2 linked regions of the Homo sapiens genome follow. The protein of the gene in region 1 interacts with the protein of each later gene in a pairwise test. Each region holds a gene or a part of one and is shown in the gene's direction. Other genes may lie near its edges.

Evidence for each region.
Region 2: the proteins of CCR1 (region 1) and TMX1 interact in binary tests that used the Homo sapiens proteins (3 or more experiments, as listed by UniProt).

What each region holds. Positions count from the first base shown.
Region 1 is NC_000003.12:46,200,913-46,205,313, reverse strand, and holds the end of CCR1 (C-C chemokine receptor type 1), read left to right. Parts: intron 1-989; 5' UTR 990-1,000; coding exon 1,001-2,068; 3' UTR 2,069-3,603; downstream 3,604-4,401. UniProt on the Homo sapiens protein: Chemokine receptor that plays a crucial role in regulating immune cell migration, inflammation, and immune responses.
Region 2 is NC_000014.9:51,243,142-51,250,439, forward strand, and holds part of TMX1 (thioredoxin-related transmembrane protein 1 precursor), read left to right. Parts: intron 1-714; coding exon 715-830; intron 831-948; exon of another isoform or gene 949-1,083; intron 1,084-2,171; coding exon 2,172-2,217; intron 2,218-3,950; coding exon 3,951-4,079; intron 4,080-6,184; coding exon 6,185-6,230; intron 6,231-6,326; coding exon 6,327-6,428; intron 6,429-6,551; coding exon 6,552-6,624; intron 6,625-7,298. UniProt on the Homo sapiens protein: Thiredoxin domain-containing protein that participates in various redox reactions through the reversible oxidation of its active center dithiol to a disulfide and catalyze dithiol-disulfide exchange reactions.

The sequences.
Region 1 (4,401 bases):
ACTTTCCTCTCCTTCAGGAGGTCTGCAAAGTGACCTTAGATCTACCTGTGCCACCTAAGGACTGTGCAATGTGGGTCAGGCTCAGCCCACTCTGGTGCCCTCAGTGTCCTCATCTCCAAAATAATGGGGTTGACCTACTAGGATTTCACTATGGCAACACCACTGGTGTTTGGGGTAGAATGATCTCTGCACTGTAGGACATCCTTGGCCCTGCCTACCAAATGACGGTAGCATCCCCCAGTTTTGGTGACAACAACAACAAATGCCCACACATTTCCAAGTGCCCCAAGGGTACTAGGTCACTCTCGGCTGAGAATCTTCTTAGACCAAAAGCCATGAATATCTGTTTGTATCTTTCTCTGAGCCAGGACCATTTTCCTTCTCAGAGTCCTCCTGTGGGCTCCACAGTGCAAAGCTACTGCTCGGGGACAGCAGCAGGAAAGCGTAGTGGTGTCAGGGCCGGGCATGAGAATGATGCACAGCTGGGTTGGAGCTCCAGGTCTGTTCTCACAAGAGGTGTGTCCTTGAACATGTTTCCTAACCACTCTGAACCTCTGTTTCATCACCTCTTAAATAAGAACAACAATGGGACCCCTCCAGGGCTCTTTAACCCTAAGTCCAGTGCCTAGGCCATGGGGGTGCTTAGGAAGTGTTGGTTATGAATAGTATGGTAAGGTCTCCCTCTGGCTTTCCACCCATTGAACTTATCCCTTACAAAACTCTTTGCTGAAATGATTGAATTAATGATTTGTGCACTCATTTACTTATTGCTTCCACTCCCTGTTAGACTAAGATTCCTAGAAGGCAGAGAGGATCTGGGTCTCTCTAACACTCCATTTTGTCCCCAGGGCATGGTACACAGAAGGCACTCAATAAACATTTATGGAGTGGCTGAAAAAATGTTACCTCTCCCTTGTCTTTACTGTCCAGTGCCCACTGCCTTTAGTAGCAGAGTAAAGACAAATCTTTTTTTTTTTTTTAACCTGTAGGAGAAGCCGGGATGGAAACTCCAAACACCACAGAGGACTATGACACGACCACAGAGTTTGACTATGGGGATGCAACTCCGTGCCAGAAGGTGAACGAGAGGGCCTTTGGGGCCCAACTGCTGCCCCCTCTGTACTCCTTGGTATTTGTCATTGGCCTGGTTGGAAACATCCTGGTGGTCCTGGTCCTTGTGCAATACAAGAGGCTAAAAAACATGACCAGCATCTACCTCCTGAACCTGGCCATTTCTGACCTGCTCTTCCTGTTCACGCTTCCCTTCTGGATCGACTACAAGTTGAAGGATGACTGGGTTTTTGGTGATGCCATGTGTAAGATCCTCTCTGGGTTTTATTACACAGGCTTGTACAGCGAGATCTTTTTCATCATCCTGCTGACGATTGACAGGTACCTGGCCATCGTCCACGCCGTGTTTGCCTTGCGGGCACGGACCGTCACTTTTGGTGTCATCACCAGCATCATCATTTGGGCCCTGGCCATCTTGGCTTCCATGCCAGGCTTATACTTTTCCAAGACCCAATGGGAATTCACTCACCACACCTGCAGCCTTCACTTTCCTCACGAAAGCCTACGAGAGTGGAAGCTGTTTCAGGCTCTGAAACTGAACCTCTTTGGGCTGGTATTGCCTTTGTTGGTCATGATCATCTGCTACACAGGGATTATAAAGATTCTGCTAAGACGACCAAATGAGAAGAAATCCAAAGCTGTCCGTTTGATTTTTGTCATCATGATCATCTTTTTTCTCTTTTGGACCCCCTACAATTTGACTATACTTATTTCTGTTTTCCAAGACTTCCTGTTCACCCATGAGTGTGAGCAGAGCAGACATTTGGACCTGGCTGTGCAAGTGACGGAGGTGATCGCCTACACGCACTGCTGTGTCAACCCAGTGATCTACGCCTTCGTTGGTGAGAGGTTCCGGAAGTACCTGCGGCAGTTGTTCCACAGGCGTGTGGCTGTGCACCTGGTTAAATGGCTCCCCTTCCTCTCCGTGGACAGGCTGGAGAGGGTCAGCTCCACATCTCCCTCCACAGGGGAGCATGAACTCTCTGCTGGGTTCTGACTCAGACCATAGGAGGCCAACCCAAAATAAGCAGGCGTGACCTGCCAGGCACACTGAGCCAGCAGCCTGGCTCTCCCAGCCAGGTTCTGACTCTTGGCACAGCATGGAGTCACAGCCACTTGGGATAGAGAGGGAATGTAATGGTGGCCTGGGGCTTCTGAGGCTTCTGGGGCTTCAGTCTTTTCCATGAACTTCTCCCCTGGTAGAAAGAAGATGAATGAGCAAAACCAAATATTCCAGAGACTGGGACTAAGTGTACCAGAGAAGGGCTTGGACTCAAGCAAGATTTCAGATTTGTGACCATTAGCATTTGTCAACAAAGTCACCCACTTCCCACTATTGCTTGCACAAACCAATTAAACCCAGTAGTGGTGACTGTGGGCTCCATTCAAAGTGAGCTCCTAAGCCATGGGAGACACTGATGTATGAGGAATTTCTGTTCTTCCATCACCTCCCCCCCCCCGCCACCCTCCCACTGCCAAAGAACTTGGAAATAGTGATTTCCACAGTGACTCCACTCTGAGTCCCAGAGCCAATCAGTAGCCAGCATCTGCCTCCCCTTCACTCCCACCGCAGGATTTGGGCTCTTGGAATCCTGGGGAACATAGAACTCATGACGGAAGAGTTGAGACCTAACGAGAAATAGAAATGGGGAACTACTGCTGGCAGTGGAACTAAGAAAGCCCTTAGGAAGAATTTTTATATCCACTAAAATCAAACAATTCAGGGAGTGGGCTAAGCACGGGCCATATGAATAACATGGTGTGCTTCTTAAAATAGCCATAAAGGGGAGGGACTCATCATTTCCATTTACCCTTCTTTTCTGACTATTTTTCAGAATCTCTCTTCTTTTCAAGTTGGGTGATATGTTGGTAGATTCTAATGGCTTTATTGCAGCGATTAATAACAGGCAAAAGGAAGCAGGGTTGGTTTCCCTTCTTTTTGTTCTTCATCTAAGCCTTCTGGTTTTATGGGTCAGAGTTCCGACTGCCATCTTGGACTTGTCAGCAAAAAAAAAAAATAATAATAATAATAAGGCCTGCTGTGTAAGCTGACAGTATTTGTAGCTGATAGGGGGTTGGGAGGAAAGTGTCTACTAGGAGGGTGGGGTGAGATTCTGTGTTGATGTAGGAGGCCGAGAAGGCCCTTAACTCAAAGTAGCTTATTTATCCAAAATGTTCTGGATGCATCATCTCCAACCAAGGACCCCTTATTTATCATGCCTTTGTTCTCTTTTCCCTCAGATGTATATTTCTTTAAAAATAATTTTCCTAATAACAAAACTTATTTCTAAAACAGCTTAAAAATTCAAAGAAAAACCCCAAACACTGACATTACCTACACTTCCACTACCCAAAGACAAAATGTGCCCACTGTGTGCTTTTGAGTGTATTTTCTTTTAGTTTGTTTTTTGTTGGGTGCATATTTATGATAATAACAATGATGGACTTCAATTGTACTCACTGTTCTATTGTTGGTTTTAATTAGCAGCAAGTTGTGATCACTTTCCCAGGTGAATAAATCATTTCAAAGCATTGTTTTTGGTGCCTGCACTGAAGTCGTTGGCAGGGATGCACCCTAATTTACTCCACCTGTTTACCCACTATTGCTTGCACAAATCAGTTCAACCCAGCAGTGATGACTGTGGGCTCCATTCAAAGCAAGCTCTTGAGCCATGAGAGACACTGGTGCATGAGGAATGTCTGTTCTTGCAGGGTGCTCAGCTCAGTGAGCCAGACAGACACAGGGATGCCAACAGGGCCCAGGCAGCATGGCAGGGGGTTGGGGGGACTGCAGAGCTCAGGGTGCCAAGGCAGTAAAAGGGAAGAAGGAATCATCAGTCAGAAGACACCCTAAGCTGACGGGTGTCCCACCTTACAATACAGTGACACCATTGGGCTGACTTTTCTCCTTTTGTGGACACTAGAGCTGCACTCTTACCAAACCACACACCCCCTTCAGTGGGAATTGTGTTCACATGTGGTCTTTGTACAAAGAAGCTGGTGTCATGATGGTCTTGAAAACTTTTGTCTGGGATAGAGGAGGTCATGCCACCTGGGCTTACACCCCCACACAGAAAATATAGACAAATATAGGTCTTAGGAGTCCAAGTGGATGTCAGCTTTCCAGTTGTAAACCCACCAGCTCTCAGTGTGTGGAAAGGAGGCTTAACTGAATTAAGACATATTTGTCTATTGCTTTAGTAAAATAAAACTGCATCAGAAAACAGTATTTGGTCCAACAGTGAAATCATAATGTGAAATATTTCACAAGATCCTCCAATTCCGTTTTGAAGTAATGCTTGTTTTTTCCCTTATTACAAAGGGAATTTC
Region 2 (7,298 bases), on another chromosome or scaffold:
AATACAATAAAGTGGAAAAATAAGATCCTCAGGAGATAATACCAGAGGAGTAATTTAAATGCTAATATGCTTGCATTTGTAAATCCAAGGTCTTGGAAACAGGATGACCTAACTGGCCAAGAGTTTTGTTTGGCCTGCTTAGTATTTGTGTGTGGGTTATTTTTTGAGGTAACATTCTCATATAAAAATGCAGCTCTCCATCTTCTTTTAAATATGAATAGCCAGCCTTAGTGTGCCAGCATCCTTAGTGGCAATCCTACTTAATAATGGTTGCCACTTTAAGATGGAATATGTGCTTTCTTATTCACCACAGCCCAGGACACTTCTGTTTTTCCAACACCTTGCATTTGTGACTCTGCATTATAAATTATTAAAATTGGTAAGCTCTAACTTTGGTCTTGAGCTTTCTGGTGGCCACACCGTTAATAGAGAAATGCAAAAGTTTTCTAAAGAGCTGTTTTGCATGTGAAAAAATCCTGTGTCTTATTCTCAGAATTTTATTTGATTAGCATCATCAGTTCATCATTCTTGATTTCCGGATTGTTAGATCTACCCTTAAAAGTTTTTCATCTGCATAAAATTAACCACCTTATCATCTTCAGTGTTTTCATATGAAATATTCTTCATAAATTATACATTTAAATTTTTTATCCCAAGATAAATGGTCATACTAAAGTGCTTAACTTTTTTTAAAAAAAAATCTGTATTTCTTAGTTATGCCCCGTGGTGCCCTGCTTGTCAAAATCTTCAACCGGAATGGGAAAGTTTTGCTGAATGGGGAGAAGATCTTGAGGTTAATATTGCGAAAGTAGATGTCACAGAGCAGCCAGGTACTGTAAGTCTTTGGTTAGTTTTGTTTCTTTGCTGTTTGGGTTGATATATTTATCCTTTTTTCTACATTGCATAGTCTTAATTCTACCTTTCTTTAGGTTTTGAAAACCTAACAGTCTGCAGCTAGTTAACCTGACTTGTCCACCTCCCTGCTGGGGGCTCAGTGTGCAATGGTTGCAAAATGGAGATTCCCTGGTTGTGTATACACCTCATTTCTTGAATGTGTTGCTTTAAGGGTTCTTGAAGACATTACCCTCTTTTTATTCTTGCCCACATAACTGCCTCTGATTTGTTGTTCTTTGCATCCCAGGCCCCAGACTAGTATGTAAGATGCCTTTGAGAAGTCCTAGGACACTGTGGTTCAGGTGAACATTGGCCAAGCCACATTTGCATCCATACCAGGCTTCAGAATAAGGAGCATGTGGTTGAGTGTTTTTCTGGAGTCAAGGTCACGTTCCCTGACAAAAGAAGACCTGAATCTCTGAAATTGAGTTTTAAATTTAGTACCTATGATTTGAGGATGTGGGCTTCTAAATATAAAGCCCTCGTGGTTGTGAGGTCAAGTGCACTCCTGACTTGGTCCCTGGACAAGTGGCAGGTCCTGCCCTTAAGGAGGTTCCTTCCACAGACCAATCTCATCTTACCGTTCTCGGTAGTCACACTACCCTTGGATTCTTGGCTGTCCCATCCCAAATGGTAATAATAGGTAATATTTATCGAGCGCTTGCCTATTATAGCACTCTTCCAAATATCTTGTGTTTATTATTTAATCCTTATACAACCCCGTGAAATATGTAATGTCCCCATTTCACAGATAAGAAAACTGAGGCACAGGTCAATTCTCTGTAATATCAGTGCTTGACACATGGCTAACAATAAATGTTAGCTGCTATTATTTTTGCCTGTCTCATGAAAGATTCATAGTATTTTCCATTTTTAGCAGCACCATAAACTGCCTTTGTTTGTTGAATGTCAAGTACAATTCCATTGGATTTTAGATCTAAGACCCTATTACCTTGTGCTCTCCCATGAGCACAAGGTGCTCTTATTACTAGTAGTCTTAATTTTGACAGTGATATAAATGTTGAAGTGTTTTTATTTAAAAATGTATTCAGTACTCTAGTTCTACATACTTTTTAACTGAGATAATGTGCAGTATTGTGTTTTTTAAAGTTGCTTTAAGTACATAATTCATTTTTAAATTATGTATTACGAAGCTCAACTATTAGGTATAATTTCATATTCTTTCCTATTAGTATGTATTTAAATAATTCAAAGTCACGTTTTAAGTAGTCAGTGATTGGCCTATGTAAAACCTGCTGTGTGTTCTTTATTTGTAGGACTGAGTGGACGGTTTATCATAACTGCTCTTCCTACTATTTATCAGTAAGTATTTGAAGATTCTAAATTATGGAGAAGGATGCATTATAGTGTAATCAGAAGTAGTAGGCCTCTGGCTTGGATCATGCTGGAAGAGCTGAGGTAATCTCATTATATTCAGCAGGTATTTTAGAGGGCTTGTTTTGCTTAGTGTTATCCTAGGTGCCTTTAGGTAGTTGAGTGATGTGTGAAACAGTCTCTGTTCTCAAAGATTTACAGTTGTTTTGGAAAGTGATGTTCTTGTGAAATGGTGTGATCCTGTTCAGCGTGTTAAGTCATTATGCATCCAAAGTAGTGGTGAGTCCTGTAGGTAATTGGATAAAGGAGAAATCACAGTTACCTGGATTGGTTCCCAGAGAATATGGGGTTTAAATGAAACCTTGGAAGTAGAATTTTAAGAGTGGAGCGTAAGCATTTTATTGTGAGGACAATCTCATAAACAGTCATTAACAGGAACATGTTATGTCCAAAAAGTAGCTAAGAAAGTGCTGTTGTACAGCCTTGGGTAGAGTAATAGGTGACAGTTGGGTAATAAAACAGAATGAGCAAGATTATGTAGTCTTCAGTGTCAGGTCTATTAGTTTGACTTTATCTTCTAAATTGAGGGTATGAAATCTCAAGTCTGTGTACCCCAACATCATGTAGCTGGTAGGTTAAATACCAGGAGGTACTGAAAATAAGTTGACAATTCTTTGTATTTATAGCTTGCTTTTCTTTGCCCTTTTTTCTTTTTTTTATGGTTTTAAAATTCACCCCTACTCCCTTTACATCTATATAAATTTCTGTTCGCTGTCTCCATAAGTGCTTCTGTCCTGCCCTTCTCATTCAGTCCTTTTCCCCACGTGCCCCTTCAGTCTCTCCCTTTGCTTTTCACTTCTTAGTGCCCTGTGACCTTATTTGGAATTTCCTGCCCTTTTTCTTTTAGTCAAAATTGTTTACCATATCCTTTCTCCTGTTTCCTGCCTGTCGAAATCTTACCTATGCTTCAAATAATAGCTCAAATGACACTTCACAAAAACTTTGTGTTTTGGGGTGGGGGGCTTCCTCGTGGTTTTTACCTCTGAGTGGATAAAGGGTCCCTTAACCCTACTTAACAGGTCCCTAGTAGGGAGCTGATGAGTTTTTGCACTTAAAGATGTTGGAGCCAAGAGAACATTTGTGACTCTGACAGAACTTTCTACATTGGGAATGGGAAGGAGGAGGTGGATCTAAGGAAGGCTGCAAAGCTCACTAAATAGTCACTGAAATGAGAGGAAGGGAAGCACCATACCAGATGCCTCCAGTGATTTAAAGCAGGGTGTCTGAGGTGATGCTATTATAGCCAAAAGTACTAGAAAAATGCCTTAAAATTTTAAGTTATAGCTTAACAGCTAATAATTACTATGTGCCAAGCACTATTCTAATAATTTTTATATAATTCTTTTAATATGTGTATTACACATAAGGCTTAAAAGTACTTTCCTGAGATTTATCTACTTACTGTATTTCATAGTTTCATTACTTGGAAGAATAACAGTAATTACATTTTAAGGCTTATGATTTAAAAAAATGTAACCTCATTGTTAAATTGGGGGCTAAAATGTCATGAGTAGGTAAATAGTATAATTTGCTATTAATACTTGTACATTGCTAATGCTTTTGAATGTTAGAATTGACTGTAAAGTGAAGTGAAAAAATAGCAAAATAAATATTAAATTATTTCTCAGTGCTGGATAATATTTAATTCTGATTCTCTTTAGTTGTAAAGATGGTGAATTTAGGCGCTATCAGGGTCCAAGGACTAAGAAGGACTTCATAAACTTTATAAGTGATAAAGAGTGGAAGAGTATTGAGCCCGTTTCATCATGGTTTGGTCCAGGTTCTGTTCTGTAAGTATGAGGGCTTTTTCTCTTACCCATTTCATAATTAATTGGAACAGATAATTATATTTTATGTAAAGCATTCATACTCAGTTTGTTTCTTGAGCTGTTAAGGTATATCCACATTTATTACATGTTTGATTTTTTTTTTTTTTTTTTTTTTGAGATGGAGTCTTGCTCTGTCGCCCAGGCTGGAGTGCAGTGGCGCAATCTCGGCTCACTGCAAGCTCTGCCTCCTGGGTTCACGCCATTCTCCTGCCTCAGCCTCCCGAGTAGCTGGGACTACAGGTGCCCACCGCCACACGTGGCTAATTTTTTTGTATTTTTAGTAGAGACGGGGTTTCACTGTGTTAGCCAGGATGGTCTTGATCTCCTGACCTCGTGATTTGCCCACCTCGGCCTCCCAGAGTGCTGGGATTACAGGTGTGAGCCACTATGCACGGCCTACATGTTTGATCTTTTTAGTTTGACCTTCTAAGTCAAACATATTTTCATGCTTCTTGAGTTAGAGAAGGCATTTTATAGAAGTAAGTTGTACACCTTTTCAGGAATATTTTAGCTTGCTAGATTTGGTCATATGTATCATCAAAAACTAAATGCCCCTAAGAGTCTTCACAGTGTAATGGGTAAAGCTATCACTCGAGTGTAATAATTTGAATGAGTAGGCTCAAACTTGTACTCATGCTACCTCCAGACTTCAATTTGTCTTTTAATGTTCTGTCTCCATAGAGACCGTCAATAATTGCCGATACCAACTAAATTAATTACATAAACTTCAACTCTTGATGTCAAGCGACTGAATTATGTTTGGTTGGTTATTCCACCTGTCTGATAACTTCTTATATGAATAGTGTGTATAAACGGTGACCGTAATAGTGTGCCTAAGCACTGAGCTTTATAGATATCTAGAGGGTAGATGAATTTCCTCGTAGCAACTGGCTATGGAGTGATAAGGATTGGAAGTAGCAAGCATGCTTTCTGCTTTGCTGTTGGAGTACAAGGCCTCACTGGTCATGTGAGAGACCTCTGGGAACAGTGAGTTTTGCTGAGGTCACCATGGACTGATCCTGTGTGGCCATCTGTCTCTTCCTGTCCTCTCACCACACTTACCTTTGGAGGATAGGGAGTTGGGACAGTAATCACATAAGAGAAAAATGCTCTAGATTCTGGGGATGGGAGAAAGATTAGCCCTGTTAACACTCACCCATTGAACTACCATGCCCAACTCAATTTTGGATCCTACTGTTTCTGAAATAAATTACTGCAGACTACAGTGAGGCTATACAGTGCTTTATGTTTCAGTTCCTTGTTTCTCTTCTCACTTGGCTTTTAAACAACAGAAGCAACATGATTAAAATACCTTTCTGTGTCGAACTAAAAGTATAACTGATTTTTGTTCTCTGAAATCTCATCTCATAAATGAATCTTGTCCTTCCAGTAGAAGAAAGTAGTTGCTTGTAAGTCTATTTTCAAGCAGCTACAATTGGGAACTCACAGACCTTTCTTATTTCTGAAACATGCCTTTTTAAAACTGGCCATTTAATTATGTAAAATACTAATTTTTGCTTATATGATGACTTAGCATTTATTTCCTATGTAATAATTTTGTATATCATTAAAAGATGTCAAACTAATGCTCTTGTAAATTTTAATTAATTTCAATAAAAAAGAGGGATAGTTCTTAAATGGAAAGAATTGGCTTGACAATTGTTTCCAGTCCTTACTTTAGCCTCCCTTTGGTCTTGCTTTGAAGGCTTTTAAGGGTGAGTAAGAGTTGCCTTTTCCAACTGGTTTCATGGAACTTGTAACCCTTTACTCAGTGTATTGGAGAAATCATCAGATGAAATACAAAATATTAACATCAAAACAGTGGGAGAAAAGGAAAAAAATACTGTCAAGTATTTTTATTTATGAGGCTGTCACATGGTAGTGTCAATTTAGAAACAGTTTTCATGAAGAAGGCTTATTACAGGCATGAAATCAGTGATGTGTCACTAGTCTTGATTAACAGCAATAAAATCTGTCATATTGGGGAAATTATAGAGTAGAAAATAGTATGTATAGACAAATCTGTGTATGTTACTCAGTTTTTTAATCATCTCTTTTATTTTTAGGATGAGTAGTATGTCAGCACTCTTTCAGCTATCTATGTGGATCAGGGTATGGACTAAAATATTTTTATCTTAAACATTTTTACCACTATCACTTTAACAAAAATGAACAGATTTTTAGTTTTTTTTTTTCTTTTGATTTTAGACTTGCCATAACTACTTTATTGAAGACCTTGGATTGCCAGTGTGGGGATCATATACTGTTTTTGCTTTAGCAACTCTGTTTTCCGGACTGTTATTAGGACTCGTAAGTATTTCATTTTTGGAGTGCTAGGAAGAAAGATATTTAAAAATGTGATTATTTAAAATAGTTACATTAGCTGTGGCATATATTCTACATTCAGATTTCTTACAATGTTTATTTTTACAGTGTATGATATTTGTGGCAGATTGCCTTTGTCCTTCAAAAAGGCGCAGACCACAGCCGTACCCATACCCTTCAAGTAAGTATATTTTAAAATGTTTATTTTTTATTCACGATAGTCCTATTCATTTCTGTAATCACAATCACACATTTCACAGGTTGCTCTTCCAGCTTAGAATTCTAACTGTGGATTGTTGGTCTTTATCAGCTATGGCATAAAGGAAGGTAGAGGAGATGTATATTTCATATAAGAATGTAGCCCAGTGGATTTTGGAACATTGTTATTTTCTTGACTCTTATATTATGGGGAATTTTAACATTGCATATAGCATGTAGCTATTTAATAATATTTATTTGGTGTCGTTTTATAAGTGGAGTATATTCTACTCTTGAAGTCTTTCATTAGTATACCGGCCGCCACATTTGAAGATTATTCTTTGAATGCCAGCCAACTGTAAGTTTTTTCTGGTAGGATATTGGGAAAAGCAATCCCTATAGTTGATTTAGGATGCCACTGACACTGAACTGTACTACAGAACAATTTAAATAATTACAAGCATTTACCAATCTTGTAATTGTACTGTTAATGGAAGCATTTATATTTGCAGTTCTTAAAGAACTTTTACTTATCTGTTACCTCGTTTGCTCTTCAGCACCTCTGTAGTAGAGTGCATAGGTGTTACTGCTCCCATTTTGTACTTGAGGAGACTAAGGTTCACAGTCACACAGAAGTGACAAAGCTGATTTTAACTA